Linked DNA regions of Homo sapiens: all the other regions are linked to region 3. Evidence: fine-mapped expression QTL. A gene starts in region 3. Each other region holds a variant in brackets. All regions are shown on one strand. Distances are from middle to middle.

Region 1 (11,345 bases), 54 kb before region 3:
TGATGGACAGGGCAGAGATGACCCAGGGCAGGGGGGATGACGGGAGGACTGATGGACAGGGCAGAGACAACCCAGGGTGGGGTGGATACAAGACTGATGGACAGAGTGGAGACCTGGGGCGGGGTGGATGACGGGAGGTTGCCTGGTGCGTGCAACGAGCATCACTCCAATGAGGGGTATGCTGAAGGCCCTGGCCTCACCTGAGTGGAGTACATCAAGGTAGCAAAACTGCACTCACACCCCATGAATACATACAACATTTTGTTAAAGTACTCTAATGTAATCTAATTAAAAAGACAACCACCAAGCTTTCAGGCATATGGGTAGGGGATGTAACACTGAGAGGAGACACAGGTGTGCTTCCAAGGCCCCACAGCCTGCAGGCCGTCCTCATCTCCATGTCACTTCCGCCCCAGAGGCCCTTCCACAGGGCCCTGCTGTCTGCAAAGTCACCACCTGGTAGATGGCTGGCTCTCCACCTTCCCCACAGACAAGGACTCAAAAGCCATCACCAAAAAGAAAGCAGATCTGAAAGTGGAAAGCAAACTGATTTAGAGACCACATGCGTCCTTTCCAACACGCACCTCCCAGGCGGCCAGCTGGCCGGACAGCACCCAGAGGCCCACACCCAAGCTGACACCTGCATGCTGACTGTGACCAAGCACAAAGTTCAGGTGCAATTAAAACTGCCCATCATCCAGTTAAAAATGTCGATTTCCAAACATCTTTTCCCTTTAAAAGCATAAGGAAAACTGTTAACACCATGACACAAGCTGCAAAACTGTGTTTACCTTTCTGAGCACATGATCTAGAACTCAGTGTTTAGTACCAAATCTCTCCCCCAGGTGTTTGGAAATAAAAGCACACAAACATGTCATCACTTCAAAGTGATCATTATAATTTCTCAACTGATCTTTTAAAATTTTGTTTGGTTAGATGTGTGTTTTGTTTTCTTTAGAAGAAAGCACCAAAGACCACATTTTGGGAATAAAGTTAAAATCGTTTGCAAAGAATTAAAAAGGAAGAAAACAAAAAACTTTGCATCCTCAAATATTGCATCCATGTTGAGATGATCTCCTGTTTTTTTCAATGCTAAAGTTTATCCGCATTGCAAACACTGCCAGCCCGGCACAAGGCAGAGCCACCTGCCACCCACAGAGGAGGCTTAATGGCCAGTGACACCTCGCCTGTCAGCTCCTTTTTATAGCAACCAAAATAACAACAACAAAAAAAAAAAAACAAAAAAGGGAGATGGGGAGGGGAGGAAAACTCTACGGGATTGGGGTGTGCTGAGGGAGGTCTGAGGGCTGAGGCTGAGATCTAAACAGGCAAATGTCATGACAGCAAAAGCCTCTTGCAGGCACGTCTATTCACCCACGGTCTGCACAGTGAGGGCCCACGCTGGAATGGCCTGCGTGTGGGTTCAGCCCCCTGGGTGTGTGCAAGGGAATGCAGCAGCCAGGAGAGGGCCAGACTTATGGAATTACACTGCCGGGTGAAAAACACACGAACAGAAAAGAACTTAGTTCAGGTGAAAAGCACTGACTTCCAGCTGCAGCTCCTGGTGGTTAGGACAAACACAGGCAATCTCGGAGCTTCTGCGGGTTCCGTTCATTCCAGAACACGCTGTGAGGTGAAGATCGCAGTAAGGCGGATCACAAGAGCTGTCTGGTTTTCCGGTGCATACAGAAGCCATAGCCACACCATCCTGTAGTCTGTTAAGTGAGCAACCGCATTACCTCTAAAAACGCAATGTGCATTTCTTAAGTAAGATAAATTTTACCACTAAAAAACACTAACAGTCATCTGAGCCTTTGGTAAGTCATAATCTTTTTGCTGGTGGAGGGTCCTGCCTCGATGCTGATGGCTGCTGACTGATAAGGGTGGTGGCTGCTGAAGGCTGGGGCAATTTCTTAAAATAGGACAGCAATGGAGTCTGCTATAGCAATTGATTTCTCCTTTTACAAAAGATTTCTCTACCGCATGTGATGCTGTTTAAAAGCATTTTACTGGGGCCAGGCATGGTGGCTCACGCCTGTAATCCCAGCACTTTGGGAGGCCAAGGCAGGTGGATCATTTGAGGTTAGCAGTTTGAGACCAGCTTGGCCGATGTGGTGAAACCCTGTCTCTACTAAAAATGTAAAAATTAGCCAGGCATGGTGGCAGGTGCCTGTAATCCCAGCTACTCGGGAGGCTGAGGCAGAAGAATTGTTTGAACCTGGGAGGCGGAGGTTGCAGTGAGCCAAGATAGCACCACTGCACTATAGCCTAGGCAACAGGGCAAGACTCCCATCTTAAAAAAAAAAAAAAAAAAAAAAAGGCATTTTACCCACAATTGAACCTCAAAACTGGAGTCAGTCCTCTCAAACCCTACCACTGCTTTACCACTGAAGTTTATGGAATATTCAAAATCCTTTGCTGTCATTTAAACAATGTTCACAGCATCTTCACCAAGAGTACCTTCCCACTCAAGAAACCACTTTCTTTGCTCATCCATAAGAAGCAGTTCCTCGTCCATTCAAATTTATTGTGAGATTGTAGCAATTCAGTCCCATCTTCAGGATCCACTTCTAATCCTAGTTATCTTCCTGTTTCCACCACACCTGCAGTGACTTTCTCCATTGAAGCCTTGAACCCCTCAACGTCTCTCAAATTCCTGTGACATTTTGACCTTCTCCCATGAATCACAAGTGTTCTGAATGGCGACCAGAATGATAAATCCTTTCCAGAAGGTGCTCAATTGACGTTGCCAAGGTCCATCAGAGGAATCACTATCTATGGCAGCTATAGCCTTACAAAGTGTATTTTTTAAATAATAAGACTCAAAAGTCAAAATGACTCCTTGAACCATGGGCTGCAGAATGGGGGTTGTGTTACCAGGCATGAAAACACCATTCATCTCCTTGTACATCTCCGTCAGAGCCCTTAGGTGCACTGTCAATAAGCAGGACAATTTTGAAAAAAAAGTTTTTTCCTGAGCAGTAGCCTCAACAATAGGCTCAAAATATTCAGAAACCATGGTGTAAACAGATGTGCTCTCATCCAGCCTTTGGTGATCCATTTATAGAGCACAGGCAGAGTAGGTTTCACATAATTCTTAAGGGCCCTAGGATTTTCAGAATGGTAAATGAGCACTGGCTTCAACTGTAAGTCACCAGCTGTACTAGCCCCTCACAAGAGCATCAGTCTGTCCTTCGAAGCCAGGCAGTGACTTCTCTTCTCTAGCTAGGAAAGTTCTACGTGGCATCTTCTTTAACAGAAGGCTGTTTTGTCTACACTGAAAATCTGTTATTAAACATAGTCATCTTCATCGATGATCCCAGCTGGATCTTCTGGAGAACTTGCTGCAGCTTCTCCATCAGCACTTGCTGCTTCACCTTGCACTCTCATGTTATGGAGACGGCTTCCTTCCTTAAACCTCATAAACCAACCTCTGCCAGCTTCCAGCTTTTCTTCCGCAGCTCCCTCACCTTTCTAAGCCCTCACAGAATTGAAGAGTCAGGGCCCTGCTCTGGATTAGGCTTTGGCTAAAGGGAATGTTGTGGCTGGTTTAATCAATGCAGACCACTCAAAGTTCCTTCATATCAGCATTAGGATTGTGTTCTTATCATTCGTGTGTTCACTGGAGTAGCAGTTTTACTTTCCTTCCAGAACTTTTCCTTTGCATTCAGAACCTGGCTGTCCAGTGCAGGATGCCCAGCTTTCAGCCTCTCTGCCTTCGACACATCTTCCTCACTAAGCTTCGTCATTTCCAGCTTTCAAGTGAGGGACACGCAACTCTTCATTTCAACACTGAGAGGCTGCTATAGGGATGTTAATTGGCCTAATTTCAACAGTGTTGTGTCTCACTCATGAAGTCAGAGGCATTAGGAGAAGGTGAGAGACGAAGGAACGGCCAGTTAGTGGGGCAGTCGGAACACACACGATTTATCGACTAAGTTCACTGTCTTCTATGGGCAAGGTTCCCAGGGCCTCAAAACCAATTATAACAGTTACAGCAAAAGTCACTGACCACCCTCATATAATCACAATGAAAAAGTAAGAAGTATTGTGAGAATGACCAAAATGTGAGAGAGAGGCAGGAAGTGAGCACGTGCTGTTGGAAAACTGGCACCAACAGACCTGCTCAGCCAGGGCTGGGCTCCACAGACCTTCATTTGCAAAAAACATCAATCTACGGAGTGCAATCAAACAAGGTGTAAGAAATAGCCACCAAGGCACGTGCCTGCAGTCCCAGCTACTTGGGAGGCTGAGGCAGGGGAATCGCTTGAACCCAGGAGGTGGAGGTTGCAGTGAGCCGAGATTGCACCACTGCACTCCAGCCTGGGCAACAGAGCGAGACTCCGTCTCACAAAAAAAAAAAAGAGAGAGAGAGAAATAGCCACCAACAGCTGAATTCCTGTGACACACTGAAATTTTCAAATTAAGCCTTTTTATTATTTCTAATAACAACACATACTACAACTTCACATTTCTGCTATATGAAGTATCTAAAATTGCTTTTCATATAAATCAGTACACGCTGGGTCACTAACAAACAGTCAAATAAAAACAGCCACACAGTTACGCCAACTAAGTACTATCATGGTAAAATTCCTGCTATAATACAGAGATGCCACAACACAGAGTGGAAAGAAATAAGACACATCAAAAGGAAAAGGTGACTGGTCCTTCTAAACACGTAGGATCAAAGCCTTCAGCAGCTCACAGCACGGAGCTCCATCCCCATCCAGCAAAGGTAATGACCACACGTTTCAGGGGACCCATTTCGCTACACTTTTCTTTCTTACAGTGAAGCATTGGAACTCAAACTCCAGTCTTTCAAAAAGGCACAGAATGCAAGTAAAAGTATGGGGATTACAGTAAGAAAAAAAAGAAAGTGGGGAAAAATCTCTCCTGGAAACTGGATCACAAAACTGGGCCAGTTACCTTAAGCCTTTAGAGCTACTTCTTGCCTTAAGAAAACCCAATATACAGCAATTCACCTTAACTAGACAGTTAATTATTTACATTATAAAAGACATTAGATTCCAACATACTATACTAAAGAATTTACGCTTAGTTCCTACAAGTGAAAATACGCCCTAAGATAAAACTTTGAAAAGCACATTCCACATCATGTTAATATAAATTATGTGAGAAAGGGTATTTTTAGTCACACATGTTGAAGAAATACTGCCTCTGTTTAAGGGGTATCACTAAAAACACCATGCATATAACTTTCCAGCCTACATCAACAAGAACAGCAAACTTCCTAAGAACACATGTCTGACTTTTGCTTTCAATGCTCAGGAAAAGAACTAGTGAAAAGAACTCAGGATCACCCTGTAAAACCGGCAGAGCTACTTCCCGGATGAGCAGGCAGTCCTGCAGGCCTCAGGCCCGGCCCTGGGCCAACATTCCCACCTATCAGGGTGCCAGGCCCTGTGGGTCTGGGCGCTAACACGCTGGACACCCATCGGAGGCTCACGGATGTCCTTGGCGATGCCGTGGCCACTGCAGAGAAGCCCCCGGCGCAGAGGGTCCCTCAGAATGACATGGTGGCAGGGAAGGCAGGGGACCCAGGGTGTGCTCTTACAAGTCATGTTCAGAACGTCCCAGACAAGTGACCAAACGGAACACACACACACAACCTGGCCATTCCTCTCAGGAACTAAACCCGCACCCCGGACCTCACCCAGGTGTGCTGGGGCGCGGACGCACATCTCAGGACCTAAACCGCACTGCGAGGCCCTCACCCTGGTGTGCTGTGGCGCGGATGCACAGCTCTACACATTTGTAAGGATCACGCACTCTGTAGGTTTTATTTGTCGTATTGGCTCGAACCTACAAAACCCATGCCGGAGACAAAGGCAAGTGTTACTAAGAAGACACCTCAGATGAAACATTTTTGTAAAATGACTCATTTCCTGCTTTTCTCATTATGAGGCACGTCTAAAGGTTTACAGCTGATCTGATGTCAGGAAGGAAGAGTTTGTGTTCAATAAAGGCGTCCACGGCTCCACCTGCTGACCAAGCCCTCATCCTGCATGCGCACAGCTGAGAAACCGCCAGGCCGGTGAGGGGAAGCTCAATGTCCAACAGCCCAGCGGACTCGCCCCGACACAGCAACAAAATTAGCGCCAAAGAGAGATCTTTTCAAAACGTATTTTTGGATGTACACATCAACAAGATACGCTAGTTCATGATAATTTGAGTAAGAAAAAAGAAAGCGTAAACGATCTGAGTAAGCATGGCCCGGGCAGGTCTGGTCCACGTTCACCTCACCCCCGTGGTTCAGGTGAATGGAAGCACAGCCTACAGCCTGGAAGACCCATGTGGGAGAAAGGGCACACGGGAATTACACACTCCACCTTACTCTACCCCCACACCTGATTCCAATAGGAAGACATAAACCCTAGGAAACTGTATTCATAGGTCCACATTAGTAAGAACTTTTTCATAACACTTACTACATTCTTCATAAGTACAGCTCTCTAAAAAACTACCATTGTTTCATGTATCCACTAGCTGCAAAAATGTACCACAAATTAACCAGAATTTTTTTTTTTCTGAGACGGAGTTTGGAGTTTCGCTCATTGCCCAGGCTGGAGTGCAACGGCGTGATCTCGGCTCACCGCAACCTCCACCTCCCAAGTTCAAGCGATTCTCCTGCCTCAGCCTCCCAAGTAGCTGGGATTACAGGCGTGCGCCACCACACCTGGCTAATTTTGTATTTTTAGTAAAGACAGAGTTTCTCCATGTTGGTCAAGCTGGTCTCAAACTCCCAGCCTCAGGTGATCCCCAAAGTGCTGGGATTACAGGCGTGAGCCACCGCGCCCAGCCTAAGCAGATATTTTAAAGATGCCACCAGCACTGACTTCACTTCACAGTCAAATGGCCAAGACCACACGGTTGCAACAGCCTTAGAAGCGAAAACATGCACTTGCAATCAACTCTGGTGATATAAATACAAAAACTTTTCTTTTTACACAAAACAAAAATAAAATCTTCCAGTTAAATATGGCAACTGAACAGAGACAATACAGGACTAGAAGGGTCTTAAATAACACAAGAGGCACCTTGAAGGCACCAGGAGGGACTGCTCTGGAATGACCCCCTAGAGCCAAACCCTCAGCAAACCACCTGGCCTCCTCATGCCTCAGTTTCTCTCTCTGAACTGGGGTGATGCCAGGGGCTCCAACAGTGCCTGGCACAAACCAGCAACTCACCAAGCCCTGGCTCCACTGCGTCCTCCTCTGGACAGAATTCTTCGGCCTTTCCATCCTGCCCTCAAAGGGGACAGGCACAGCAGGGCACACTGGCCTATCCCTGCAACCCCCATATCAGAAGCACATAGGAAGCTGCCCTGCTCTCTAGACACAAAACTACCCTCTTCACCCAATTCTCAAAGCTCTGACAGATTTTTGTGCTCCATACAGATGACCAGAGTCAATGCAGTGAGAGCTGCTGGGTCTTCCCAGCCTGGGGCAGGGAGCTGTGCCAGGATGGTGGCACTCAGGGCCCTGCAGGTTCCACGGGGGGGGGGGGCATCACAGAAGCCAAAACCAAAGCAACCACAGGGATCACAACCACCAACACCAACAAAGTGCAGGTGTCTATGCTCGCTAATACTCAAAAAACACAGTGCCAACTAACCAGTGTAGACAGAAGTACAAAGATCCCCTTCTGCAGGACTCAGCGTAACAATGAGCTGAAGCCCTGGACCGAGGAAAGGTCACTGGGGAATTAACATCCATAGAATAGTGTCGCTTCGCTATTTGAAACAGGAGAGCACCTCTGGCAGGCAGACCTGCAGACGCCATCTTAACTGCAGGAGCGCTTCAGCACACCAATAGCACAGCAGAGGGGCACTTAAAGGAAGTCATAAGAAAAATGCAGAATGAGGGGCGTTCTGCAAAAGAGCAGGCTTGGATTCTTCACCAAAAAACTCAATATCCTAAAAAGTAACAAAAAATGGGGGAAGGACCATTCTAGATTAAAAGAAGCCAAAGGACATAATATCTAAATGTGATGAGAGAATCCTGATTAAATCCTAGCTCTAAAAAAAGTATCAAAGACATTTTGGGGAGAACTGAGTAAATTTAAATGTGGACCAGATAAAGGATGCCATAGAATTTTTACTAATTTTCTTATTTGAACAATGGTACTGTATTAGGAGAACATCCTTATTCTTAGAAAATGCATGCTGGAGTTTTCCTTTCAAAGGGCTCAGCCAAAGAAAATATACAAGTGTGTGTTATAGACAGAGGTGTGTACACATCTACAGAGACAGCAGTGCTGCAATACAACAACAGGTGAACCTAGGTGAAGGATAAGTGGGCGTGTCTGTTACAGACAGGTGTGTACAC[ATG/G]TGTAAATAGAGACAGCAGTGCTGCAATACAACAACAGGCAAACCTAGGTGAAGGGGAAGTGGGCGTGTGTTTCAGAGAGAGGCGTGTACACATGTGTAAAGAGAGACAGCAGTGCTGCAATACAACAGGCGAACCTAGGTGACAGGGTAGTGCGTGTTGTGTGTTACAGACAGTGGTGTGTACACATGTGTAAAGAGAGACAGCAGTGCCGCAATACAACAGGTGAACCTAGGTGAAGGGTTAGTGGGCGTGTGTTTCAGAGAGAGGTGTGTACACATGTGTAAAGAGACAGCGGTGCTGCAATACAACAGGTGAACCTAGGTGAAGGGTTAGTGGGCGTGTGTTTCAGAGAGAGGTGTGTACACATGTGTAAAGAGACAGCAGTGCTGCAATACAACAGGCGAACCTAGGTGAAGGGTTTGTGGGTACACTGTACTACTCTGTTGGTTTTTATGTAGGCTTGAAACTTTTCTAAGCAAAAAGCTTAGGAAAGCACTGCAGGCGCAGGAGTGAGACCATCTTGCTCCTCCCGTCCTCTAGGCCTCCGACTGCCCTTCCAATGAATTCTCATGAGAAACAGCAGGGCAGTCATGCGGGCCCCTCTGCCCCGCCCTACACAGTGGTGCCAGGTGGTGGGCCCAGGTCCAGCCAGGGCTTTGCTGTGGGGCCCCTCTGCATCTGGTGGACGTCGGGGAGCACCACATCCAAGCTAACATGCATGGGAAGCAGCGCTCCCCGAGCTGCAGCATCTTCCTCACCAATGAGCTGGCCTGCAGCGGGGTCAGGCCCATGTGGCGGAGCTCATGGGGGCCCAGCTCAGCGCCTGCTGCACCCTGATGCAGCAACAACACAGTGCTGCGTTCAGCCACTGACCACCGGGAGGTCTGTATTACTATGGCTATCGCTGACGGAGCTGGCAGAATAAACGCTGACCTGATGTCAGGACGGAGCAGTTTAATGCGTGTGATGCCCCCAGAACAGACCCAGGCTGCCATAAAGATCTCTACGCATGGTCGTGACTGCTGCCTGCTCCCGTTCCAGCCTCAGAGTCAAGGAATTAGCTTTCCAATCTCAAGCTTCTTTTTAAAAACGTTGTCCTGGCCAGACGCGATGGCTCACACCTATAATCCCAGCACTTTGGTAGGCTGAGGCAGGCGGATCACCTGAGGTTAGGAGTTCAAGACCAGCCCAACCAACATGGTGAAACCCCACCTCTACTAAAAATACAAAAATTAACCAGGCATGGTGGTGGGCGCCTGTAATCCCAGCTACTAGGGAGGCTGAGGCAGGAGAATCGCTTGAACCCGGGAGGCAGAGGCTGCAGTGAGCCGAGATCATACCACTGCACTCCAGCCCGGGCGACAGAAAGAGACTCCGTCTATTAACAAACAAACAAACAAACAAAAAGTCCTATTTTCCTTTCCAACATCTTACTAACATTTTGAACATTAAATCTAAAACTTAGTAACTAACGTTAAACATATAAAACAGATTTTCATATTTGGAGTTCATTTATAAACCTTTCAATGCACACTGCTTATCCAGACGTCGGGGTGGAGAGCAGCACTGGTGGGAGGTAGGGGGAGCATGGAGGAGCGAGGAGCGGCCGGGAAGATCCCACAGGCATGGCTGGCAGGAGACTTGCCAGTGGACCACAGTGGGGCATGATGGGGGAACGGGGAACAGAGATTAAAAGAGAAGAACCAGGGAACACTCTAGGTAGACAGCCCCCGTGACTGGGCAGACGGTCTCATCATTGACTGAGCAGGGCCAGACTGGGGGAAGGAGACGGTCACGGAAAGAACTGAAGAGTTCTGTTAAGACCTTACACGGCTGGGCGCGGTGGCTCACGCCTGTAATCCCAGCACTTTGGGAGGCCGAGACAGGCGGATCACGACGTCAGGAGATCGAGACCATCCTGGCTATCACGGTGAAACCCCATCTCTACTAAAAATACAAAAAACTAGCCAGGCGTGGTGGCAGGTGCCTCTAGTCCCAGCTACTCGGGAGGCTGAGGCAGGAGAATGGCGTGAACCCGGGAGGCGGAGCTTGCAGTGAGCCGAGATAGCGCCACTGCACTCCAGCCTGGGCGACAGAGCGAGACTCCGTCTCAGAAAAAAAAGACCTTACACTTGAGTTGCCGGAGAGAAACCCAAGCAGAGAGGGACACACTGGATTGAGGGTCTATGTCTGTGTTTGCGCGTCTATGTGTATACCTTCTCCCAGAATATACCACGCAGACACGTGTAATAACAAAAACTAGATGGAAAAGATCCAGGAGACACCCCGTGGGTAGGAGTAACAGCTCCCGCGGCTCCTATGGTGGCGTGGCCGGCCCCTGTGCTCAGCTACAGGCTCTGGCAGCCCTGCTCTTCTCTAACCCTCTCCACCCACTCCCCCATTCTGTCTGCATTAAACTTCTTGAGAGAACTTCGGAGGGTGCCTTCTCTTAATCTCCTACATCCTTTGAAATAGCCAAAATGGAGCTAAATGTTTAGAAAAAGAATAGCAGAATTTGAAAGGTAGTTATTTTTTTGAAAGATAGTAGAGTCGGAAATACTGAAAATTAAGGCTAGAATTAAGTTTTCATGTCAACCCACAGAACTTTTTCATGACTAAGGACAGATGTCTAAACTACCGCAACTCACTCCGTGTGTCCCTGGAAAACATTCACCGAGTGGATGGAGGGGTCCCTGAAATCCCAGAGGCGGAAAGTCGTGTCACGGGAGGAGGTCACCACGAGCCGCTGGGTGGGGTGTGTGCAGCAGTGCGTCAACTCCTGGTCGTGCCCTGTAACCAAGATGGCAAAACACAAGGTCATCACCTGAGGAGCACGCTGAGAGAGACGCTTTTCAACAGCACAAGAACCCAAGAAGCCGTCTCTCTGAGACTGTGAACCTGACCTAATGGAATCACTCAGCAGCATGTGGGTCACAGTGGGGCAGGTTTTCCCTCAGAAGCTGAAGTCCTTTCAGCCGTCCATGTCAAAGG
Region 2 (10,598 bases), 45 kb after region 3:
ACCCAGGACAAGCTTTATACCCAGGACTAGATACACTTTAGACCTAGAAGGTTAGCACACATCTGTTTTAACTCCCTCTTACACAAGCTAAGGACTCAGGCCCATGAACCTGTTTTCCTCAGGTCTGACTGACAAGTGGCAATGCCAATATTAACAGCCAGGTTTCAAGATGGCAATGGCACAGAGGAGTGAAGCTCAGGCTTCCATGAAGGAGACTGCAGTTTATACACAGACTCTCCTGCATCTCCATTACCACAACGCTGAAACTAAAAGTTGTTGTGTTTAATAAAAGGACGTTTCAGCAAGACAGACTGTGTCCATCTTAAGTGTCTTTGCCAAAAGACGCTACAAATAAACTAAATGTGACTCAAGCTCTCCACCTGGGGGGAACAATCCTGCAACCTAAGGATGAGCAGGATCACCCGCCAATCAACCCAGGAGTTCCCTCTGCTGTTCCTCCCATGGGGGGCTTGCTGGACTTGAGGCCTCCTGGTGCTCAGCTGTGGCCACTTCCTGGCCCTCTTCAGACAGCAGGGTCTAAGCCCAGACTGCTAGTGCTGTCAGACCATGCTCTGGCCACCCTCCGCAAAAGCAAAGTGCCAAGGAGGGGTCCATCCAGGGCAGCTGTCAGGGGCATCCACCTGCACCCTGACCCGTGCTCTCCTCTAAAGGATGCCACAAAACGAGGGCATGCAGTACACACAACCCCTGCCATAGTTCCTGCAAATGGCAACTGCTGGTGTTTGCCCTGAACCCTGTGCAATAAACAACAGAGACTGTCATTTTATTACATTACACAACACAGAGACTGACCTTGACATCCCTAAGACCAGAAACGTCACGTGGAGTTCGAGAGCAACTCCCACTCCGGGCCACAGAGGACGGGGGAGCAGAGTCTTCCCGCTTTCTTTTCCTAGTGATGCTCCGGGATCTTCTTGCCTGGACTGCGTAATGGGCCTGCAAAGCAGGGGAAGCAATGCTCAGCGCTCAGGACCCCAGGTCCACTCCCAGGCTCAGTGCTCAGCGCTCAGGACCCCAGGTCCACTCCCAGGCTCAGTGCTCAGCGCTCAGGACCCCAGGTCCACTCCCAGGCTCAGCGCTCAGGACCCCAGCCCCGCTCCCAGGCTCAGCGCTCAGGACCCCAGCCCCGCTCCCAGGCTCAGCGCTCAGGACCCCAGCCCCGCTCCCAGGCTCAGAGCTCAGGACCCCAGCCCCACTCCCAGGCTCAGCGCTCAGGACCCCAGCCCCACTCCCAGGCTCAGCGCTCAGGACCCCAGGTCCACTCCCAGGCTCAGCGCTCAGGACCCCAGGTCCACTCCCAGGCTCAGAGCTCAGGACCCCAGCCCCGCACCCAGGCTCAGCGACAGGCATGAGGTCACTCCAGCAAGAGGGGAGGAGAGGAGCGTCTGAACCATTAACACATGGGCTAAAGGTCTTGAAAATACACGCAGTATTTTCATATTAGTGACACCATTTCAAGTTCACATTAGTAACAATTTCACATTAGTTGTTGGTCAAATATTCTTATTCACTTAACGGAAGCTGCTTTACGTAAGAAAGCTGATTTTAACTCCACTTAAAGAAACTTAGAACTCTCATTTAAAAGTGATTATTATAGTATAGCATCACAATTTATATTTCAGATATAAACAATGCTCTCTCCCTCACTGCCCCATTTTGGGGGTTACTGATATGAACACAAAGGGACAACCATCAGACAGAAACCATCAGACGGAAACTGCAGACTGCACATCTAGAGGACAGGGTCTGCAGCCACACCCTGGGCACGTCATGGTGCTGTCTCGTGCTGGCTGTGGAGCTTTTTTTTTTTTGAGACACAGTCTTGCTCTGTTGCCCAGGCTGGAGTGCAGCCTCAATCCACCACTTCAACCCAGACCCAGGGTCAGGGAATCCTCAACCCATCACTTCAAGTCAGTCCCAGGGCCAGCGAATCTCAAAAGAGAAAAACTGGAAGCTCTCATTTCTTTTTGCTGTAATTTCCCACGTTCCCACGGCTTTCCAAAACCCTGGTTTCTTTCTTTCTTTTTTTTGAGATGGAGTCTCACTCTGTCGCCCAGGCTGGAGTACAGGGGCACGATCTCAGCTCACTGCAATCTCTGCCTCCCAAGTTCAAGCAATTCTCCTGCCTCAGCATCCTGAGTAACTGGGATTACAGGCACACGCCACCACGCCCGGCTAATTTTTTGTATTTTTTTTAGTACAGACTGGGTTTCACCATGTTGGCCAGGCTGGTCTCGAACCCCTGACATCATGATCTGCCCGCCTTGGCCTCCCAAAGTGCTGGGATTACAGGCATGAGCCACCACGCCCGGCCAGTTTTCTTTATTAAAAAGGTGTATCCAGCCACATAAACACATGAACCGCCCCCACACTCACATCGTCTTTATCGTCCATGTCAACACCAAGACTACGCATCTCCTTCTCCAAAACTGTCCTCTGAACCTGAGAAGGATAAAAAGAAATATTAGCTTTAAATTAGTTTGATGAAATGTTGAAAAAAACTTCAAGGCAATATATATGTATACATATTTTGCAACAATTATAATATACTTATTTTAGAAGTTGTAATTTTTATTGGGCCCCGCTTTCATGTTTTTGGATAGCTCAATTAAATCCCACGAAAACTAACATTAACAGAGCAGTTGCTGTGGGAAGAATCAGCGTATCCTCCACGTCTGTCCATTCTTCACCGCAACACGGGGGAGAGAGTGACCGTCTCCATCAGAGGTGAGACACTAAAGCTGAGGTTAGTGAGGTGGCCTCAGACAAAGGCAGTGCGCCAACCTCTCTCCTCCCAGAGATGGCTGAGCCCCACCTGGAGAAGTACAAAAATGTCCAAGTCCGCCATAACCAGTCACTTGCCACCATGTGAAAACAGTGTATTCAAACAGGAAGACCCACTGAGAGGCATCCTGAATGTCAAGTGACTTCTCTGGTTACATGTTAACTGCCCTGCATGTGGGCTTTCTTCCCCCAGTCCCACCCTGCCACAGAGCCAATAAATTGCCTTTTGTAGACTGCGTCAGGTTTCTGTAAATTGCTAAAGAGTCCAGATTTTTTTTTAAATTTTTTATTTTTTGAGATGGAGTCTTGCTCTGTTGCCCAGGCTGGAGTGCACTGGCACAATCTCGGCTCACTGCAAGCTCTGCCTCCCGGGTTCACACCATTTTCCTGCCCCAGCCTCCCGAGTAGCTGGGACTACAGGCGCCCGCCACCACGCCCAGCTAATTTTTCTGCATTTTTAGTAGAGACGGGGTTTCACTGTTTTAGCCAGGATGGTCTCAATCTCCTGACCTCGTGATCCACCCACCTCAGCCTCCCAAAGTGCTGAGATTACAGGCGTGAGCCACTGCGCCCGGCCTAAAGAGTCCAGATTTAATGCAGAAATTAAAGAACAAGAAAACCAGCCGGGCGTGGTGGCTCACGCCTGTAATCTCAGCACTTTGGGAGGCCAAGGCAGGCAGATCACTTGAGGTAAGGAGTTTGAGACCAGCCTGGCCAACATGGTGAAACCCCATCTCCACTAAAAATACAAAAGTTAGCCAGGCGTAGTGGCAGGTGCCTGTAATCCCAGCTACTCGGGAGGCTGAGGCAGGAGAATTGCTTGAACCCGCGAGGTGGAGGCTGCAGTGAGCCAAGATGGCGCCATTGCACTCCAGCCTGGGAGACACAGCAAGACTCCATCTCCCCCCTAAAAAAAAGAGAGAGAGAAAAAAGAAGAGGAAAATGTTCACTGATAGCCTTGAACGTCTGTGAACCATAAGTTACAGTTTTAATCTGTACAACTGCAAAATGACTGGATCTAGAGTAGTGCCAAACTCGAAGCTGAAAGTCACCAAGAAAGGACGCAGTAAAGAATATAAAAGATCAATACGTGAGCGATCTTGCAAATCCATACACCAATAAAACAAGAATGTGCAATCTTATGGCCATAAATGGGTTGAAAAGTTGTTATTTAGCAATGATCACACAGGAATCCAATTTTCAAAAACTAGATCACACTGCTTTGGAAAGACACAAACTTGCCTTCTTAGCAGTTCGCGGCATCCTGGGTCCCTGTGTATTCTTTTCTTTGGACTCCAGAATTTTCAACTTCTTTTTCTCTCGAATTTGCTTTGCCAGCTGTCGGATTTCCAGCATCTCTTCGTCTTCACTCTCAGATACACTGTCATACTCTCCAGCAGCTGTTCTCAGCTCTTCTTCTTTTTCTAATTCTTCCAATTTCTTTAAAAATGGAGTTGTAATGAAGCAAAATTAACAATGAGAAAACCCCTGAGTCAGTGAGTGTGGCAGAGTGTGTATGGGAGCTTTGTTTCCCTGACTCAGAGGAGAGCGATTGCCCTGGTCCAGACCCACCTGGGCCCTGCCTATGTGCCATTTACCTCACAGGGAGGGTTCTGTGAAGAAAATGGAGACCACGTGAACGCCAGCCGCCAGCAAGTCAGTAACCCCTGTGCACCATTTCCTTTTTTTAAAACAATTAAATTCCAAGGCTAAAAATGTGCAGAGACCGCCTCCTTCACTTCCAATGCTCCCGGCAGACACACACAAGGAACTCAGTCCTGAGACACTGATTTCGTGCCACATCCCACGTGTCCGTTCTAATGTCACCCCAAATACAACCTCACTGGCTACAAATAAGACAAAAATGAAAACTAAAACACACACGTTTATCACCCCCCAATGAGGCAACCCGGCCAGGAGCCCAGCAGGCAGATGTGCCTGTACGAGATGCTGGCCAGCAGTGCAGAGGGTGAGACGGGGGCCAGGCCTCGTGGAAGGGGATGGCACGGGCACAGCTGTGCGGAGGAGGGAAGTCTCAAGGCTTCTTGCGCCCAAGAGCGCGCACTGCAGAGGGGAAGAGGCTGGGAAGGCAGGCGGCCACCGCGGGGACAGTGAGGGCACGGGCTGGACTGGGGCCCCAGCAGAGGTGACAGCAGATGCCCTGAGGCCACTCCTCCAGCACCAACGAAATTGAGATTGTTGCCCCCAGAATCTGCTATCCCAGAATCTGCTATGGAGGCACAGGGAGCACAGAGACCACGAGACTGAAAATGTGAACTCAATGACGGAGGGCCTGTGGGAACCAAGGAGTGGCAACATGGGACATGCAGATGGCAAGTATTGTATAAAAAGAATGTTCCAGAGAGCTCAGCTGAGAGAAGAAGGCAGGACAGCAAGTATTGTATAAAAAGCATGTTCCAGAGAGCTCAGCTGAGAGCAGAAGGCAGGACAGCAAGTATTGTATAAGCATGTTAGCATGTTTCAGACAGCTCAGCTGAGAGAAGAAGGCAGGATAGCAACTAATGGAGGACACGGTCTAAGGATGTTTTCGTTTTTTAAAAAGATGAGTAAAACTTGTGGACTTTTATATGCTAAGAAAAAGCAAGTAGGGAGGGGATTGAGGCAGGAAAAAGATGTGACACAGCGGAGCCCCCAAGGAAGAGGGTCCAGCACAGCAGAGTCCATTAAGGGCCTGGCGGAGATACAGGGTGGGGAAGGTGGTGCAGGGGGCACAGTCAGGATGGAGGGATGCAGGAGAATGAAGGGGCCCAGCATCTCCACCAGAGTCTCGGGGTGGGGGGAAGAGGTGCAGGAGGCACAGTCAGGATGGAGGGATGCAGGAGAATGAAGGGCCCAGCACAGCAGAGCCCATCCAGGGCCTGGCGGAGACACAGGGTGGGGGGGAAGGTGGTGCAGGAGGCACAGTCAGGATGGAGGGGTGCAGGAGAATGAAGAGGCCCAGCATCTCCACCAGAGTCTCGGGGTGGGGAAGGTGGTGTAGGGGGCAGAGTCAGGATGGAGGGATGCAGGAGAATGAAGGGGCCCAGCATCTCCACCAGTGTCGGGACAGGGAAGAGGTGCAGGAGGCAGAGTCAGGATGGAGGGGTGCAGGATAACGAAGGGGCCCAGCATCTCCACCAGAGTGTCCGGGGTGGGTGGGTGGAGGCGGCGGGAAGGGGGCAGGCCAGCATAGCAGAGCCCAGCCAGGGCCAGTATCTCCACCAGAGTCTCAGGGTGGGGAAGTGGTACAGGGGGCAGAGTCAGGATGGAGGGGTGCAGAATGAAGCGGACAGGCCCAGCTGAGCCGAAGCCATGCTGCTATCTTCCAGCAATACTACTATAATAAAAAGGAAAACAATCCGCAATTTAAAAAGTGACACAAACCTTCATGATGGCTGGATCAATATAATCAGCTATATTATGGCCTTCCCAGATTTCTGGTATCTTATCATGTTTTTCAGACAAATTCATTAAATCCCAGTACTCTAAAGTTAAAAAAAAGGTGGTTACGTTTACAGCAGTTTTTAATATCTTCAAGTACTACGTGCGCAAAATGAGTTGTGACTGACGGCAAATCAACGACTCCACTGCAGAAGAGAGCACGACGTGCAATTCCACATGCAGCAGCATCAACACATCAGCCTCATTCAACACCCACACGTGGAGAAAGCTACAGAAATCACCCCACCATCCCAAAACAACAGGAAACAACACATCAGCCTCATTCAACACCCACACGTGGAGAAAGCTACAGAAATCACCCCACCATCCCAAAACAACAGGAAACAACACATCAGCCTCATTCAACACCCACACGTGGAGAAAGCTACAGAAATCACCCCACCATCCCAAAACAACAGGAAACAATGGAAGAACCCCCACTGAGTGCTATCAGCATGCACCTTTCTTTGAGACAGAGTCTCACTCTGTCGTCCAGGCTGGAGGGCAGAGGTACAATTTCTGCCCACTGCAGCCTTG[T/A]CCTCCTAGGGTCAAGTGATCCTCCCACCTCAGCCTCCCGTGTCACTGGAACTACAGGCACATGCCACCACACCCGGCTAATCTTTGTATTTTTTGTAGAGACGGGGTTCTGCCATGTTGCCCAGGTTGGTCTCAAACTCCTGGGCATAAGGGATCCAAAGTGCTGTGATTACAGGCGTGAGCCACTGCACCTGGCCCTCAGGATGCAACTTTTAATCTTCAAGAAATTAAAAGTTGACAAATAGGCTGAAACACTTTTATTACTTATTAAAGTCTTTCCCCCATTTTCTGAAATACTTCACGTCCAATTGGCATTTTATAATAATGATCACACTCTGGCCCTTACTCTGAAGATCCAAAATATAATCATCTCCCATTTCCAGCTCAAGATCTCGTTCCTGCAATAGAAAGAGAAATTATCATCAGCTTCATTTTGCCTTTCAGATCCAGAAATGCTCTGCCCCTTGTCACTTGAAACAATCTTTTCTCCAATCCTCTCAGTATCAGTGGGGTTCACCTTCCATTTCTGGTAGGAAGGCTGTTTCTTATCTCCCTGTCTGCGGGGCCAGCCTTTGGGTTCTGGTAGGAAGAGGCTGTTTCTTATCTCCCTGTCTGTGGGGCCGGCCTTTAGGTTCTGGTAGGAAGAGGCTGTTTCTGGCCATCTGGGGACTGTCTATCCCACTCATGCATTTGGTTCACGGCCATCTTCCCTCAGGCCAAAGAGCCCCATGAGAGAGGCTTCTGCAGGGGGACTCACTGCTGTGTCCGCAGCCTGACGGGGCCAGTGTCTGGGCACCCGCGGCTCCTGTTCGATGCCCCAGGCCCCCACGATGGGCACACACAGCCTGCCTCCCCCCATGAGAACACTGGGCGAGAGCTTCGGCAGCATACCCTCTTCTTCCTGGACTCCTCAGTTTCCATCCTCTTCCTGCGAGCCACCACTCCTTCAGGGATGAAAGGGGGCCTCTCCTGAGAAGATCCCATATAAAATATTTATGTGAAATGCCTGCTGAATGAGAAACTTACAAAGCCGAAAAAGTAGAAACAAATTCCCTACGTGCAAGGGGAACAGAAAACCATACCCAGACCAATGAACAACCAACAGATTATTTTAGGGGAGAGGAGTGGGTTCATACCGAGACCAATTAACAACCAACAGATTATTTTAGGGGAGAGGAGTGGGTTCAGGGTCACTTTGAGCACAGAGACCAGGAGGACTCCACAAAGTGATTCCAAAGTTTATCCAGGAAAAACAGAAATCATGATTATCATGAAAAATTATGGAAGAAGAAAGTGGTAAGAAATAACACTGGATCAACAGATGAAAGAAATTTAGACATAAACTCAAGTGCATATAAGAATTCAATGGAAACATAAAATTTCCAATACTCAGGTCAGAAATGCCGACCACTTGAAACGGAGTGCAACCTCCACCCTCACAACATAACCAACTCAAGACACGGTGAAGACTATCCAAAAAAGCTAATTTTTAATGCTAGTATAAAAGATAATTTTTTTTTTTTGACAGAGTCTCACTCTTGTCACCCAGGCTGGAGTACAGTGGAGTGATCTCGGCTCACTGCAACCTCCACCTCCCAGGTTCAAACGATTCTCCCGCCTCAGCCTCCTGAATAGGTAGAATTATAGGTGCGCGCCCGACTAATTTTCGTAGTTTTAGCAGAGATGGGGTTTCACCATGATTGCCAGGCTGGTCTCAGACTCTTGACCTCAGGTGATCCACCCGCCTCGGCCTCCCAGAGTGCTGGGATTACAGACGTGAGCCACTGCACCCAGCAAGAAAAGATACTTTTAAAATGACTTTGGAATGAATGGTAAGCCTTTCTATGTACAATGCAAACCTGAACACCCAGAAAAAAAAATTAATATATGTTAATAGTTCAAAAATGTACAGCACATTTGAAGTTAAAAAGGCAAGTGACAAAAAGAGAAAAAAATTTGCAATGTATCTGACAAGAATCCAACCTTTGTAATACAAAAGTAACAAATCAGCGAGAAAAAGATAAACAGCCTAAAGAACTTTGAAAAGGCCAATAAGCAGACAAACATGCTCAACCGCACCCAGCATTACATAAACACACAACAATAAAATCATCTTTACACAAGACTGACAGTCAGTGCCCGACCACGCCGAGGACACAAGGAAAGACAGAGGGAAGGACACAGCCTCCAGCGTCAGTGCAGCACACACCAGGAAGGCGTCTGTGGGACAGGAACGTTGTCAACACCACATGGTGAAGTGCAGACACATTTGCAGTAAAACATGAAGACACAGCGTAACGATGTGTGCCCATTCACAATGGACAAAACAATGAAAATTTATTTTATTTATTTTTTATAGAGACAGGGTCCCACTATGTTGCCCAGGCTGGTCAAGAACTCCTGGGCTTAAGCAATCTTCCCACCTTGGCCTCCCAAAGTGCTGGGATTACAGGCGTGAGCTACTTCCCCCAGCCAAAAAAATGAAAATTTAAAGAATGAAACAGATTTCCATCTGTGTTTAAAGAACTTTTTAGAAACTAATCTTCTATATCAGAAACATTTCTGGAAGGATAAACTAACAGTGACCACGTCATGCAGTGGGAAACGGGTGCCATGTGGCGTTCTGCACTTTCTTCACCTTCTCGATCCTTTATGTAAGCAAGAAGGTGAAACTGAGGCCCACCCACAATATCCACCTGCGAGTGTGTGAAGCTGGATGGGAGGCTTCTGGAAAAGGCACGCAGACAGCACCTGCTGACAGTACTGTGAGCCCACGGCTGTCCCAGGGGCCGTCTTACCTTATCGTCCCTCCTGGTTGGGATAGCCAGGTGCAGTCTATTCAGCACCTCATTCACTTTATTTCCCTTCATTTTGGTTTCCACTCGATGAGCCAAAAGCCTATCGCAAGCCTAATAACGTAAAAAAGAAGGCACAGTCACAAACGCATCCTCCAGCAGCCTCCAGCTACAGGTTCCAGGAGGAGCCACAGATCAGAGCCACTGAGCCTTTTCCCTCAAGGTAACTAACACGTAGGGGGCCACATTCTCTGAGGCCCAGGTGGAAGCGGCCCTGAGGGAAGGTGCATCTCCAGTGCCTGGGCCTCTCTCCCACCACAGTGACCCTCTGCACAGACGGTGCCCTCCAACTGCCCTTCACGAACCGGAGGCAATGTTGCCCCTCAGGACTCTAACCGAGCAACAAATTCCTGAGTGCGACCATGGCATCAGGAGTGCCATCTTTTTAAATCCTGAGTGCGACCATGGCATCAGGAGTGCCATCTTTTTTTTTGAGATGGTATCTCGCTCTTGCTGCCCAGGCTGTAGTGCAGTGGCATGATCTCAGCTCACAGCAACCTCCGCCTCCCAGGTTCAAACGATTCTCCTGCCTCAGCCTCCCGAGTAGCTGGGATTACAAGCATGCGCTACCACGCCCGGCTAATTTTGTATTTTTAGGAGAGACGGAGTTTCACCACGTTGGCCAGGCTGGTCTCGAACTCCCGACCTTGGGTGATCTACCCGCCTCAGCCTCCCAAAGTGCTGGGATTACAGGCGTGAGCCACTGCGCCTGGCCAGAAATGTCCTTTTATTTGAGATAAAAACAACATGAAATACAAAGTAATTAGGACAGCATGTGAAATCCAGCAGCGGACTGCCTCCTGCAAAAGCTGTTCTGCTTTTCAGACTTTTCTCCCTTCTACTTCGAACAGGTTCCATAAAAATAATTTTCACTGTACTTGCTACCGAAATATTAAAAGGCCAGAGACAACAGCTGCTTTAGGGTAAAGTTGTTTGGGGTGAGAAGAGCAAAGCATCCCC
Region 3 (10,282 bases):
TGGAATTACAGGCACCCAACACCATGCCCAGCTAATTTTTGTATTTTTAAGAGAGACGGGGTTTCACCATGTTGGCAAGGTGGTTTCGAACTCCTGGCCTCAAGTGGTCTGCCCAGCTCGGCCTCCCAAAATGCTGGGATTACTGGCCTGAGCCACCACAGCAGGCCTCCTGAAGGTAATTTTATTTTGCCCTAGGGGATCCTGAATAAACTATGTTGCGCACCCACATTTTGACTACAACCTGTCTGTCACAAGGTAAGGTGTGGAAATTTCCACTTGTGTCATGTTATGGATTTTGAATTTTTGGATTAGGATGCTCAACCGGCGTAGCATAAATCTTATTTAAATGTTTAATCACCAGTTTAGGGGGTTTTCAGGTTGGTATCATGGGAAGAGGGACAAGGAAGTGGCAGGTGTTTGTAAAACTACTGAAATGGTATACCATGGAATCTAAAATAGACAGGAAGGGAAGTGAAAACAGAAAGAATTAATGGAGAGATACTGGAAGAAAGTTGGTGGACTGGCAGATCTACCAGAGGCTGAAGAGCTACTACAAAGAATTGCTGTAAGGCTCAAATGGATCAATAAATACAAAGAGTCACTAATCCTCATAACATCCCTATGAGACAGAGTTCCCAAATCCAATTAAGAGCCTTTCAACACAGTCATACATCACTTAAGGATGGGGACAGGTTCTGAGAGATGCATCGTTACGTGATTTCGTCACTGTGGGAACATCGCAGAGTACACTTACACAAAGCTAGGTGCACAGCCTACTCCACACCTAGGCTAGATGGCCCAGCCTGCTGCTCCTAGCCTACAACCCTGCACAGCATGTTACTGTACTGAATACTGCAGACAACTGTAACACAATGGTATCTATTTGTGTACCTAAACATATCTACACATAGAAAAGGTACAGTAAAAATAGAGTATTACAATCTTATGGGACCACCATCTTACATGAGGTCTGTTGTTGACCAAAACATCATTTGTTATGTGGCACCCGATTGTATTTAACAGACTAAACACTAATAAACTGATTATAGAACTGTAAAGAGAAAAAACAAACTTCTTCACTCCAAATATAACCTTCTTTAACCTCTATGCACTGTTTTACCTAAATACAAGCAAAGAGAAACCTGAGATTCCAAAACGTAATTATTTTCCTTCAAAATATTCACATTTACCCAATATTATTGGACAGATTACCATATTACAAAGAAGGCTTATGGAGATTAAATGTCCTTCTGGTTTTCAATAAAACATTATTTTCAAGAAACTATAAATAGTCCCCTCTAAAAATTCAATCTCTTTATCCTACCATGGATTTAACAGAATAAACGCTCCTTCTGAACTCCTGACTCATTTAGTCTGTCCAGTTCACCTGCCCTTAGTATATGTTGCCGTGTACGTAATACACCCCACTGCTTGTAAGCAGTCAGAACAACAGGCACACAGCTGTGATGCAGCACAGTGCTCTACACACAGCAGGCACTGGCCAAACATTCGACTAATTAATGAAACCCATAAACACACTGTGTTAGCAAGCTGAATTCCTCATCTTTAGAAATGCTGTAATATTGGGCCAGGCATGATGGCTCATGCCCGTAATCCCAGCCTTTTGGGAGGCCCAGGCAGGCGGATCACCTGAGGTCAGGAGTTTAAGACCAGCCTGGCCAACATGGTGAAGTCCCGTCTCTACTAAAATACAAAAATCAGCTGGGCGTGATGGTACACGCCTCCCATCTACCCTGGAGGCTGAGGCACGAGAATTGCTCCACCCTGGGAGGTGGAGGCAGTGGTGAGCTGAGATCATGCCGCTGCACTCCAGCCTGCGTGACAGAAATGCTGTAATATTAAACAGCATCAATGAACACTTAGCTTTCTGCTCTTTCTCAAAAGATTCTTTTATATATATATTTTTTGAGACAGAGTCTCGCTCTGTCGCCCAGGTTGGAGTGCAGTGGCGCGATCTCGACCCACTGCAACCTCCACCTCCCGGGTTCAACCAATTCTCTGCCTCAGCCTCCTGAGTAGTTGGGGTTACAAGCACCCACCACCACGCCTGGCTAATTTTTTGTATTTTCAGTAGATACGGGGTTTCACCATCCTGGCCAGGCTGGTCTTGAACTCCTGACCTCATGATTCACCTGACCCAGCCTCCCAAAGTGCTGGGATTACAGGCATGAGCCACTGCGCCTGGCCAGATTCTTTTCAATATTTCCAATATTAATTAATTTGTAGCTATAGAAATTATCATTCTCCTAAGTGTGTATAATTTGAGGAAGGCAGATAACATAACCAAAGTAGCTTGAAACAGCAATACGACAAATTCTTTTCTTTTTGACACAGAATCTCGCTCTGTCTCCCCAGGCTGGAGGGCAGTGGCGTGATCTCGGCTAACCGCAACTTCTGCCTCCTGAGTTCAAGTGATTCTCCTGCTTCAGCCTCCTGAGTAGCTGGGACTACAAGTGCCCGCCACCATGCCCAGCTGATTTTTGTATTTTTAGTAGAGACGGGACTTCACCATGTTGGCCAGGGTGGTCTTGGACTGCTGACCTCAGGTGATCTGCCCACCTCGGCTTCCCAAAGTGCTGGGATTACAGGCATGAGCCACCACGCCCTGCCAACAAATTCTTAATTTACACTTTCATTTGAAACAAAAAACACAAAACATTACTTTCAGTTTCATATCCAGTAGGATTTTAAACATTTTTCTTTCATCAAAGCAAAAACACTTGCTTAAGTGGTTAATTTCACAAATGTTAATCACATGCAAAAGAATGGTTAAGGAATATAATGTCCATGTGGCATTAAAAATAAATTGGAGAAATAAATTGAAAATTGCATAAAATGTGATGGAATTTCCACCAGAAGTTTAATCAAGTTTGTAGTAACATTTTATCGTAATAACACTGTTAGACGAATTCCTAGTGGGCTGAGACACCAAATTCAACTTCTGAGCAATATCGAGGAAGAGAATGGTCTCTACAGGCAACCTCAGAAATCTGTCATCAGTATTAACCTGCTTAAAATGTTTTGTCATTGACGAAATGAAGGCATGGAATACATACACCATCAATTCTGTGGATGACAATCAATTAGGAAATACCATTAATCAGATAAATAGCCATCAAGATTTTCAAAAGATCTCAGTAGTTAAAAGAACAACTTTAAACCAAGGATGAAATTCAACAGATGTAAAATCTTTTCCCTGAAAAGAATAAGACAGGATAAATATGAAAACTCTATCTTAGTTTCACCTTGGGGAAAGGGACTTAGGGATTTTAGTTCAGGGCAAATGCCCAAAGTGAACAGCCTAACATAGCTACCCAAAAAGAGGAGGAGGGAAACACACTCACTCAAGATCTCCTGTATACAGCACTTTGCAAAAATGGCTGGCATATATTACATAACGTAACCTTCCCAGTAAGAAAATGAGGCTGATATGAACACCATGTTAGAGGACAGGGAGTCGGGACTTAGGAAGGCCTTGCCCAAGGTCACACTGCTGTTGAGACGTGGCCAGTGCACACGAGTCCCTACTCTGTCTCCTGTGAGCAGTATTAATAGAAAGGCAGCGTCTAAACCCAGGGGATAACAGATCACTCCATTTGTTCCACATTGGTGAGTTCATATTTACATACCGTGTTTAACTCCTGGGACATATCAAAAGCTATTTTGAAAGACTCGAATTTGATCAGGAAAGTAACCAGAACAGTGTGTGTGTCTGCTGGGGTTGGGGGAAGTTCAGAAGACGAAGAAAGTTCCTGGAGATATAACTATCTTGAGCTTTCTCATTCAGAGGTAAATAATTCCTGCAATACTTTTATGACCGTAACTCACAGGCCAACATACTGAATTTAAGAGAAAAACACTTGAACTTCAATAAATGAAACTTCCAAGCAATTAACACTTTTCTATAATGGTATCCGCTTCAAGGGACGAATGTTTTAGCGTTTAAGTTAAATGACAAAATCTCTAAAAACCTGGCAGACCTTAAGCTATTTTCACTCACAACCTGGAAAAATGTATTTATTCAACTTGGTTTAGTAAATGAGTACATTATTATTGTTGCTCTTGTGTTATTCCGGTGAACAGCTGTCTTAAAATGTTTCCCTCCAGCGGTGGCTGCTTTCAGGGGGAAGGGAAGGAAAAGGAAGTCTTCAAAAGGGGAACAATATCATGGCGCTGTGTTAATCACTTCAGCATCCGTCACTCCACACTCACCACCCTTCTTGAAGCCGACCATCCCCACTCTTTGGAGAGAAGAAAGGCCATTCTCCTCTCTGAAGGGCCTCCCAAGTGCTTCCCTGGAGACGCACTTCCCCGGGATGCCCAGGCCGAAGCAAAGGGGGCGGGGAGAGACCCCGGGCCGAACCCTTCTGCCCCCAACCCCTCCAGCGCCCCGACTCTTCCTGGACTCCGACATCTTCTGCACCGCCCCGGGCCCCCATCCCTCCCGCACCCTGGTCCCTCTGGCACCGCCACGGACTACTCCTGCGCCCCGACTTCTCTTGCACCCTGAACCCTTCTGCACCACGGCCCTTCCTGCACCGCCACGGGTCCTCCAGGGACCCGACCCCTCCTGCACCACCACGGACCCTCTGCATTCCAAGCCCACCTGCACCCCATCCGCCACTATGCCCCGACTGCCCCTGCACCCCCTTGAGCCCTGCAGTGTCCCGACTCCTCTTCGGGGCATCCGGGGAACGACTCGGCGCCTGACAGGTAGGAAGATGGCGGCACTCACCTGTCACAGCAGCTGCGCCCGCCACCCCCGGAGCCAGCCCAGGTCGCGCACCGCCAGTGAGTCCCTACGACGCGGCCCCCCGTACTGACCCGAAGACGCGCAGGACACCGCTGTCTCCGCACTGACGCGACCCCACAACCCCAACCTGGCGCTAATGCACTTCCGGTGTCGCCGGAAGTCCCGCCCCAGTCCCGCGCCGCTGGGTTCTCCGGAAGCCGCCCCACACCTCCGCCCCACACCCGGCGGCGCCGGAAGTCACGCCCCGGCTTCCGCCCCGCAGCCCCGAGGGGTCTGGGCGCGCTGAAGACCCCTTCGGCTGCTGGGCCAACGCCCCCACCCTTGGTCACGTACTCCTGCCGCCGAGCGGTTCGCGGGAGGTGGCCTCGGGGGTCGTAGCTACTCACCGGCGGGGCGCTCCGAGTCCATCTGCCCCGTAGCCCGGCAGCCGGGGCGGGAGGGCTGCGAGCCCGGGGCGCGGTCCGCCTGAGGCCTGAGACCCGGGGCCGCCTGCGCTCAGGGCCGCGGTGCCGGCCGCGCGGGAGCCTGGCGGGGACGGCGCGGTCAGTGTTCGGCTCCTCCGCAGTGACTCACCAGCGTCCTGAAGCTTTTGATCACCATTGGCTGGGAAGGAAAAACAGAATCAGCTGTTCCCTGCGAAAGGTGGGACTTGGGCCGCTTTTTTCTTAGAATCTAGGTTGGAAACGTCGCATGATGGTCTTTACGTAAACAGCCGTCTCAACGCTCTACAGAAAGCGCTAACCGCGCATTTGAAGCCCACCTAGAGTAAATCAAGAGCGTGAAAGCATTTTTTTTTTCTGTGTAGGTTAACATTCCTGCTCCTTCCTTTAAAAAGGAAGCTCAAGGCCAGGCGCGGTGGCTCACGCCTGTAATCCCAACACTTTGGGAGGCCGAGGCCGACGTATCACGAGATTAGGAGGTCGAGACCAGCCTGGCCAACATGGTGAAACCCTGTCTTTACTAAAAATACAAAAACTAGCCGGGCGTGGCGGCGCGCGCCTGTAACCCCTGCTACTCGGAAGGCTGAGGCAGGAGAATCGCTTGAACCCGGGAGGCGGAGGTTGCAGTGAGCCGAGATCGCGCCTCTGCACTCCAGCCTGGGACAGAGCGAGCCTCCGTCTCCAAAAAAAAATAAGGAAGCTCAAGATGAAGAGTCAGAAGTGGTAACTTGTTTGTTGCACAAGAAACAAATTTAGCATTCTATTTAGGGGATCCAGATTACCAAAAAAAAAAAAGAAGTGAAGTTATTTCTGCATTAAGTATATTAATAAAACTTTATCACTAAAAACAATTCTGTAAGAGGAACGCCAAGGAAAAAAATATTTGAGTTTTTAGAGAAGTCATTTTTTAAACTTTTAGAGGTTGTGACATTTAAGTAACATAATTTTATTTAGTACCTAGTATGCAAAGACATTGTACTGGGCATGGCAGCAAATAGAAAGCTTTGTAAATCGCAGTGTCCCATCTAATTAACCCGCATTCTAACAGGTGGTTTTATTTTTCTGGACCGCACCACAGTCAGGTAACACCAAGAATATCGCTAATGTAATTTTTTAAGTTGATATATTTAGGATTCCATAAAAGTCACTGAAAATAACTGAGAGCATGACATGTCACAAAACAAGGGAAAGAAATCATTTTGAGGATCAGTCGCTTTACATCTTTTGTAACTAATTTAATCCCCAAAGGAATCCAATAAAGTAAAAGTTATTCTAAATTGAATTTTAAGCATGAGAATGTGGAAATTACTCGTCAAAAGTCAAAAATAATCGTGCAGCAGGGCAAAGACTAAAGGCTGGCATCAGAATCCATATTCTTTTCACTGTTGATGTGCTAGGGCTGCAGGAACAAAATACTGCAAACTAGGCAGCTTAAACAAATTTATTGTCAGAGGTCTGACTGGAAGTCCCAAATCAAGGTATTGGCAGGGTTGATTCCTTCTGAGAGCTGTGATGGGAGCCTGTTAATGCATCTCAGCGTCTAGGCATTCCTTGGCTTGTGGCAGCATGCCCCCGCCAGTCTTCACATGACGTTTTCCATGTCCGTGTCTGTCTGCACACTTAGCGTTCTTTTTATGAGGACATCAGTCATATTGGAGTACAGTAGACGCTACTTTAATATGACCTCATGTTAACTAATCATATCCACAACAACCCTGTTTCCAAATAAGGTCACATTATAAAATACTGGAAGTGAGGTCTTTAACACATGAATTTGAAAGGGGGACACAATTTAACCCATAACACACTGTATCCTGAAATAACTATCCAATGTAATTTTTTTAAAAGACACAAAACTAGCCGAAATTATAAAAGGTTATGATTGCAATCCTGGTATCCAGTTACATTCTCCCTCCTGCAGAAGCTGTGGAGAATCCTGTCTCAGAAAACCAATTTCTATTTTGTCACATGTCCATCTATGCAAAATACATGTACTTTGTCCCTGACATAGGGCAACAATGCTGAATTTACTAAGACTCATTTTTGCGCATGGTTTGATAGGGAATTAAGATTTACTAGGTATTCTGTCATTGTCCTCATTACTGATTATTTTAACTGTGTCTCAAACACTTGGATAGTACACTATAGTGTTATAAGCTGTTTGACATGTCGCTTCCTAAATTCTCAAGTTATATATATGTGTGTATATATGTCATGTAACAGGCACAACTGTTTTCATGTGTATCACTTTATTGCACTTCACAGGTATCATATGTTTCTTACAAAGTGGAGGTTTGTGGCAGCCCTGCATGGAGCAAGTCTGTCAGCACCATCTTTCTAACAGTATGTGCTCACTTCATGTCTCTCTCACATTTTGGTAATTCTTGGAATGTTTCCGTTATTAAATCAGTTATAGTGATCTGTGATTAGTGATCTTTGATATTACTGTCATAATTGCTTGGGGGGCACCATGAACCACCCCTATATAAGACAGCAAACTGAGTCGATAAATGTTTTATGTGTTCTGACCACTGCACTGACCAGCTGCCTCCCTATCTCTCTCCTTCTGCTCAGACCTCCCTATCCTTGAGACACAGCAATACTGAAATTAGGGGCCAGGCATGGTGGTGGCTCATGCCTGTAGTCCCAGCTACTTGGGAGACTGAAGCAGGAGGATTGCTTGAGCCTAGGAGTTCGAGGCTGCAGTGAGCTGTGATCACGCCACTGCACTTCAGCATGGGCAGCAAAGCAAGACCCTGACTCAAAAAAAAAAAAAAATCAGGCAATTAATAGCCCTAAAATGGCTACTGTTTCATAAAAGAATGAGTTGCACATCTCTTACTTTAAATCAAAACTAGAAATGATTAATGATTAAGCATGGTGAGGAAGGCATGTTGAAACAGCTAAGTCGTGAATGCAAAGGAAAAGTTCTTGAAGGAAATTTGAAGTGCTCCTACAGTGAATACACAAATGGTAAGAAAATAAAACAGCTTTATTGCTGATATGGAGAAACTCTGAGTGGTCTGTATAGATTAAACCAGCCACAATATTCTGATAAAGCCTAATCCAGAGTAAGGCCCTAACTCTCTTCAGTTTTCTGAAGGCTGAGAGAGGTAAGGAAGCTACAGAAGAAAAATCTGAAGCTATCAGAGGTTGGTTCATGAGGTTGAAGGAAAGAAGCTGTCTCTATAATACAAAAGTGCAAGATAGGCCAGGCATGGTGGCTTATGCCTGTAATTCCAGCACTTTGGGAGGCCAATGCAAGTGGATCCCTTGAGGTGAGGAGTTCAAGACCAGCCTGGCCAACATGGTGAAACCCTGCCTCCACTAAAAATACAAAAATTAACTGGGTGTGGTGGCACACGCCTGTAGTCCCAGCTACTCAGGAGGCTAAGGCAGGAGGATCACTTGAACCCAGGAGTTGGAGGTTGCTGTAAGCCAAGATCACACCACCACACTCCTGGGTAACAGAGTGAGACTCCATCTCAAAAAAAAAAATGTGCAAGTGCAAGATAAAGCAGCAAGTCATCTAGGAGATCTACCTAAGATCACTGATGAAGACGGCTTTGCTAAACAATAGGTTTTCATTGGAGTTGAAACAACCTTATTTTGGGAAAAGATGCCGCCCAGGACTGTCATAACTAGAGAGGAGAAGTCAAAGCCTGGCTTCAGAGCTCCAAAGGACAGGCTGACCCTTGCTAGGGGGCTAGTGCAGCTGATGACTTTATGTTGAAGCCAGTGCTCATTTATCATTCTGAAAATCCTAGAGTCCTTAAGCGTTATGCTAATTCTAGTCTGCCTCTGCTGTGTAGATAGAACAACAAAGCCTAGATGACAGCACATCTACTTACACAGTGTGGTTTACTAAATATTGTCAGCCCACTGTTGTTGAGACCTACTGCTCAGGAAAAAAAAAAGATTTCGTTTCAAAATATTACTGCTGATTTACAGTGCTCCTGTTCACCCAAGAGCTCTGATGGAGATATACAAGGAGATTCATGTTGATTTCATGCCTGCTAACACAACATCCCTTTTGCAGCCCATAGCTCAAGAAGTCATTTTGACTTTCAAGTCTCATTATTTAAGAAATACATTTTGTAAGGCTATGGCTGCCCGAAGATGTAACTGAATCACTGCACTAGCATAATAAAACATGAATGGATAAGCAGTTGCTTCTTGTGGATGAACAAAGAAAGTGGTCTCTTGAGATGGAACCTAATCCTGGTGAAGATGTGAACACTGTTGAAATGATAACAAAGGATTCAGAATACTCCATAGACTTAGTTTATGAAGTAGCAGCAGGGTTTGAGAGGATTGACTCTAACTTTGGAAGTTTTCCTGGCCGGGTGCGGTGGCTCATGCCTATAATCCCAGCATTTTGAGAGGCCAAGGTGGGCAGATCACAAGGTCAGGAGTTCAAGACCAGCCTGGCCAACATGGTGAAACCCAAGCTCTACTAATAATACAAAAATTAGCCGGGCATGGTGGCACACGCCCATAGTGCCAGCTACTCATGAGGCTGAGGTAGGAGAATTGCTTGAACCCAGGAGGTGGAGGTTACAGTGAGCCAAGATCGCACCACTGCACTTCAGCCTGGGCGAAAGAACGAGACTCTGTCTCAAAAAAAAGTTTTCCTGTGGTTTAAAAAAAATCTTTCATGAAAAGAATTGTCAATCAACGTGACAAATTTCATTATTGTCTTATTTTAAGAAACTGCAACAGCCACCCCAACTTTCAAGCACCACCTTGATCAACAGCCATCAACATTGAGGCAAAACCCTCCACCAGCAAAAAGATTATGACTCATTGAAGGCTCAGCTGATGGTTAGCAGTAAAAAATATTAACTTTAATCATCTCGACCATTCAGTACTCATCTAATATTCTCTATAACAAAATGGGAAATGCACATAAAGCACTTCTGCTACATGCTGAATTATGATTGTTGTCTCCAGGAAAAGAACTTGTGGGAACGTTTGAGTTGTAAGCTGAACTAACTAGCTGCTTTTTTCATGAAATACCGCTTTTACTGGAAAGAACTGACAGATAAACTGAGGTATTCAAACCTAG

Direction of the effects. Positions count from the first base shown, and alleles are read on the strand shown. Sizes are in standard deviations (SD) of each study's normalised expression. Not every link is listed here.
With allele ATG in place of G in region 1, the expression in regulatory T cells of the gene that starts at base 5,340 in region 3 is lower (moderate effect, 0.72 SD a copy in Bossini-Castillo 2019).

Evidence for each region. PIP is the estimated chance that this variant, and not a neighbour inherited with it, causes the effect.
Region 1: its variant is fine-mapped to the expression of WDR37 in regulatory T cells (Bossini-Castillo 2019, PIP 0.95).
Region 2: its variant is fine-mapped to the expression of WDR37 in whole blood (TOPMed, PIP above 0.99).

The regions. Positions count from the first base shown.
Region 1 is chr10:1,104,925-1,116,269 of GRCh38, reverse strand. WDR37 (WD repeat domain 37) reads right to left here. Exons shown (of 14, transcript NM_014023.4): 11 at 11,003-11,144. Among named protein-coding and RNA genes, the nearest start is that of LINC00200, 49 kb to the left of the region's middle. RefSeq lists enhancers at 4,921-5,501, 5,878-6,027, 5,502-6,084, 5,402-6,601. The variant ATG/G (reference allele first, on the strand shown) is at 8,352.
Region 2 is chr10:1,006,112-1,016,709 of GRCh38, reverse strand. GTPBP4 (GTP binding protein 4) reads right to left here. Exons shown (of 17, transcript NM_012341.3): 10 at 9,582-9,692; 11 at 7,675-7,752; 12 at 7,130-7,181; 13 at 6,190-6,290; 14 at 4,048-4,245; 15 at 2,398-2,463; 16 at 814-957. Among named protein-coding and RNA genes, the nearest start is that of IDI2-AS1, 11 kb to the left of the region's middle. RefSeq lists enhancers at 7,091-7,591, 7,592-8,092. The variant T/A (reference allele first, on the strand shown) is at 6,784.
Region 3 is chr10:1,051,443-1,061,724 of GRCh38, reverse strand. WDR37 (WD repeat domain 37) reads right to left here and starts at 5,340. Exons shown (of 14, transcript NM_014023.4): 1 at 4,757-5,340. It also overlaps a transcript of IDI1 not described here. RefSeq lists enhancers at 4,623-4,682, 4,783-4,842, 5,643-5,692 and silencers at 4,943-5,372, 5,803-5,862.